Linked DNA regions of Homo sapiens: region 2 is linked to region 1. A link means that fine-mapping ties the variant in region 1 to the expression of a gene that starts in the linked region. Tissue or cell type: whole blood. Region 1 holds a variant in brackets; the other region holds the start of a gene. All regions are shown on one strand. Distances are between the middles of the regions.

Region 1 (2,768 bases):
AATCACACTGAAAGTGAGCAATATACTGTGATAACCAGAGCTTTACTGCTTTGTCATGGTGAGATATTAAAACAGAGTTGCTATAATACATTTTGACAAATCAGCTAAGGCTGTAGCTAATTTGAAGGTACCATATACTTTTCTAATTTAGATAATCAAAGTGGACCCAAAAAATAATAAACTGAGTTTTAAAATCTCTTACCTATAATATTTAGAATTTATACAATTATTTTATTATTTTTTCCAGATTTGCTAAATATGCATTCCTTTTAGGAAGTACTCTCCATGCACGTGAATTTTCATTGTAAATAAACTTTGTAGGGCAACATATTTTCTTGATGTAAATTGACTGTGGGAAAAGTAAATAATGTGTGCCTACCACCTCAATCAGAAAAAACAAAATCATAACCAATGATTTTTATATAGACAAACTTCAAGCCATCAAAAGAAACCATTATGTGTCTGCTGCTAAATTCAAGGTTTACAAGGAAGCAAAATTTTGCCTCTTCTCACTTTTAATGTCTTAGGAAAACAGCTCTCTACAAGTTTGGGTGGAGATAGCTGTCTTCCACTCATTTTTTCCAAAGGATATGCAAAACCTGAATATTATGAAAAATAACAGATTAACACATGATACTCTAACTTTAAAGATGCTATCATATATTTGAATTTACAGAGAGTCATCAGAAAGGAATTTCCTCTTTCTCCCAATATACACCTACTTCTTTTTCTATTAATCTGTACTTTTGACAACTACCTGTCTGTATGCAATACATAAACACACACACGGTCATCCACAACAGTTGTAAACACACATGCATATATAGTCATGCAATTGAAGTTTTTTTCTCAGCGATCCATACACAAAGTAAAGTAGTAAATACACTGTAAACATAATCATTCTTCTCTTTTTCATGATTGTAACTGGCTCTAACTTTCCAAATTCCATATTTAAAAATTGTTAAATATAAGTAGAATAAACCCAGAATATGATCCTCATTTCAAAGTGGAGGGCTTAATAGGATGACCCAATGTATTTATTACAGTCACTATTGCTTGAGAAATGTACTTTTAAAATAAAATCCATGGCAAGAAAAATGGTAGATCTTTGTGTTATAGTTAATTATAGAAATTATTTTTCCAGCACAACTGTTCACATTCACCAATTTAATCTGCTTTGAGATGCCCTTGAGAAATTCAGATTGATTCAGTCTCATAAAATTTTAGGGTAATATATCATTGGTTGTTCTGTTTTGATTTTGCTCAGTTGGCATGCAGTAAAGCATTGATTTCAACTTACTTGTGAATAAAATTAAAAAGTCGGTTAGGCATCACTTTGTTTTGATTTGAACTATGCTGCTACCTGGTTTTAATTGTTCAACTACCTTTCTGTTCAGTAGTGATGTGTGTATTTGTGGCTCCTGTCCATTCAGTAGATCCCTCTGAAGGACCCTCTTTTATTGACAGCACATTTTGCTCTATGAAACATACTCTATTTCTGTGCCAAAAGATCTATTTGAAACAGAGCCAGTGTCTCATTCCAGGAAGAGGAAAGGATATCAAGAGTTTCCATGGCAATCAGTTGA[C/T]GGAACTAAATTAAGCAGGAAACCTCTTCAGAATGCAAAGTAGTCTTGCAAAACAAAGTGGTTTGAAATATTCAGGAAGTGTGTCACAGCACAACGAAAGAAATGGAGATATGAATACCTCCATAATGTAAACTCCCTAACTGTAAAATAAACAATTAAATGCTAGCTTTTGTCCTACAAAAATAAACCCTCAAACAACTGTCATTTCTAATCAAATCTTTTGTTCCAGTTAGTTTTGGTTTTTTTTAGTTCTTATCTCTTATGATCAACATCATGTAAGAATATAACTACAATTGTTTATGTAGGTAGGAAAAATAACTTTTTTATGTTACTGCTGTTAAATTTATTTTGTATGAAATTGTGCAAATTTCATAGCTAGTTCTTTAACAGTGAAATCAGAAGGAATGACCAAAATTTATTTTAGTGAAAAAAAAAATGAAGAAACAGATTCCTTAGTTTAGAGAAAGGAATTGCTTTTAAAAATGGGATTCTTCATGGTAATTTGGATTATTGATAGTTTTAAAAATATCATTCTACTTCCTGGAGTGGAATTAGAAGGAATGAGTCTTGAAATTCCAGGAAATAGAAGAATTAGAATGAACCAGAGGTTTCTTATCTTCTGGTCAATTGCCAAATCGTTATAATAGTTTGCTTGGAAATACGGCTTCAACCTGTATCAGTAACTATTACCAGAAGTCCTTCAGACCACCTAAATGCTTTCCAAATGCTTTCCTCTTCTCTTTAAGGAAAGAGTTCTTGGAGCAAACGTTTCTAAAGCACACGGATTCACAATAAAAAATATTTAAACAATTCCTAAAACCTATTAACCACTCGTTATCCCAGCTTTTTAAGTTAAATCACTGTATTTGTTTGAAGTAAAATTATAGGGTCTCCTTTGAAGATGAACACATAAGAATATACATCTTAGAAGAGGAAGGTCTTATGAATTTTAATCTCAAATATTCTGGCCTCAATTTCAACGTGAACTTTAAAGTGTGATCTAAATGCTTACTGTGTGTAATATAAACATTAAGAGGCACATTTTGATGTCACCTGCGTGATAAAACTTTCCTGGCTTCATTGTGCTAAACTTTTCTCAAATTTTCTGGACCAGAAACATAGTCCAAACATAGCACATCATCATATCACACAGACAAACACACACACACACACTCACACACT
Region 2 (2,500 bases), 260 kb before region 1:
CAAATCCTCCACCGTATCCTGTCCGTTGCATCCACTCCCACCTGCTACCACTTCTATCCACTTTACCGATATGGTCACGATGAGCGCTACAAAATTGCTGCCAAATAAGTAAATATGAGCGCAACACAAAGCCAGTTGGTGGGGACCAAAAAGTACCTTTAGAGGCACTCAGCCCCTTCGTAAAAGTCAGCATGTGTTTAGCTCTTTAAAACATCTCGCCTTACCAAACTCTACGAAGAATGAGAATTAAGACCGTCCTCTAACCTAACCCATGCGGATATGAAAAGTGGAAGGAGATTTCAAGACAGGTTTATACTAACTAATCCATTAGCCCAAGGCAGATCAGAGCTGTCAACAAATCAGGACCAAATCAGAAAGAACAAAGTTGCAAATGTGAGAGGGTGTGTATGCACTGGTGCGGGGGAAGAGGATGGGTGGGAGGACAATTTTTAAAATGCAATCATTGAAAACGGGAGAATCCAAGTCCTCTGTCTCCCAGCCGGCCTCCAAACCTCGATTCCACGGGCAGTGCCGGGAATGGACCTAATCCCAGGATCGCAGGGATTTGGGGGCGGGGTGGGGCTGCCTCCCGCACCCGCGTGCCTGAGCGCCCAGCCCCCGCGATGAGGACGCGCTCGGGACACTCACGTTTTCTGCACCGGCTTCCGCCGCTTGCGACTGGCGTAGGTGATGTTGGCGCTGCTGCTGTTCATGGTGCCCAGCCGACGGCGGCGGCTACTCCCCGGGCACTGGCGGCCGGGTCCCCGGAACCCGGTGTAGGCTGGGACCACTGCGGCGGCCGGCGCCGGGTTCCGCGAAGCCGCGCCCGCTCCACCTGCGTCCTCTCGGGACAGTGGCGTGGGCGCCGCGCCTCAACGCCTCGGCTCACGCAGGCTTCCGCAGCCCGCGCCAGTACAGGTGAGCTGCCTGGGCCTGGCGCAGTGAGGGTGGGCGAGGGGCGGAGACCCGCGAGCAAGGCGGCGCAGGTGCCGTCTACACCGGCGGAGGCGGCGCGGCAATGCCCGCAGGTGAGGCGGCCCGGGCGGAGGAGGAGCCTGGGCCGTCTATTTAGAATCCTGGCCTGGGTCGCTCACGGTGGCGCCGCGCCCCGTGACCGTCGCCGCGGCCCCTTGGGTGAGGGAGGTGCCGCCGCGCTGCTCCCGGGACTTCCTAAATCCAGGGTGCTTCCCGCCTGCGGAGCTCGGGCGCGGGCCACCAGTCCCGGCTGCTCCCAGCTTCCGTTCGGCTACACGGCTGCCCCTGTTCTGAGCTGGCGGTCCGGGGCACGCTCTCGGAACAGAGCGTCGACGGGACTCCCCAGCCACTGCCTCCCGCCGCCGCGCGCACCGGCTGAATAGCAGGAGCACCCCCGACCCCTCACCGGCCCCGCCCCGCCCAGATCCCGCGTAGCCCCGCCCCGTCCTGCTTGCCCCCGCCCATCTGGATTCCATTCCGTCTTCCTTGAGGGCCCCACCCTCATCCCGGCACGTGATGACGTAGGACGTAAGGACGCCCCCCCCCGCCGGTAGCCATCTTCGTGCATAGGCAAACTTATTGTAGCTAGACTGTACAAAGTATATCAAGATATGCCAAATATTGAGCTTAACTTCACCTGTTTGAGAGACGGTGGGTCAGCTAACTTGTGGCTAAGAATTACAATTAACTGGTAGACAACTGGTAGACAACCAATGGGACTGTATATTTTCCTAGTTGGGAAGGCTTCAGAAGGCCAGATTTGAGTTGAGACTTGAAGGCTAGGAGTTTCCTTGACCTTTTTTGGTGTGCGGGGGAAGTCTTTACAATAGACAGGAATATAGATAATAAGGGGACTATTATGTATTGTGTCATGGAGGACCATGTGGAAAAATATTGGGAGTAATTAACAATATTGAATACTGTTGAGAAATTCAAATTAGTTGAGAACTGAAAATGTCATTCTTGTTTTCTCAATGTGTAGTCACTGATGACTTTCGTGAATGCAGTGTTGGGGTAATGGGCCTGCAAATAACATTGAAGTGGGTACAGGATTGAGCTGAAGATAACAAAATGGCATCCTCAAGCAGGCAATTTTTCTTCCAAGTTTAGCTGTGGATGAGAGACACATCAGATTGTATGTAGGGGGAGTGAAGGGTTAAATGAGGGTTTTCTAGTTTTGGTTTAGTTCTTTAATGGGCGATACTGAGCGGCTTAGAGGGGGTAGAGATAAACTATGTAGGGAACCTGAGGGAAGAGTGAAGGAATGATAGATATTAAGATACCGAAAGCAGGAGGGAATGAGTGCCAAAGCATAAATGGGAGATTAGGACTAATAGATTAGATACTAACAGAAACAGCACTTACAGTGCTTTGCTATTCAGAGTACTCCACAGCTTCTTTTGAGAGTTACAGGAAATGCAGACTCTTTGGGTGTCCTTATTAAATCAGAACCCGAAGTTCACAGGAACTCCCAGGTGATTCAAATGTACATAAAGTTGGAGGAGCAGTTCTCTACCATAGCTGG

Evidence for each region. PIP is the estimated chance that this variant, and not a neighbour inherited with it, causes the effect.
Region 2: it holds the start of AHR, and the variant in region 1 is fine-mapped to the expression of AHR in whole blood (TOPMed, PIP above 0.99). The same link has a PIP of 0.9 or more in blood mononuclear cells.

What each region holds. Positions count from the first base shown.
Region 1 is chr7:17,040,352-17,043,119 of GRCh38, reverse strand. LOC124901595 (a long non-coding RNA gene) reads left to right here. Exons shown (of 4, transcript XR_007060239.1): 1 at 1-2,768. Among named protein-coding and RNA genes, the nearest start is that of AGR3, 160 kb to the right of the region's middle. The variant C/T (reference allele first, on the strand shown) is at 1,587.
Region 2 is chr7:17,297,478-17,299,977 of GRCh38, reverse strand. AHR (aryl hydrocarbon receptor) reads right to left here and starts at 1,326. Exons shown (of 11, transcript NM_001621.5): 1 at 649-1,326. The coding sequence starts at 713. It overlaps LOC101927609 (a long non-coding RNA gene), which reads left to right and starts at 658. Exons shown (of 12, transcript XR_007060234.1): 1 at 658-918. RefSeq lists silencers at 652-701, 742-851, 902-1,051.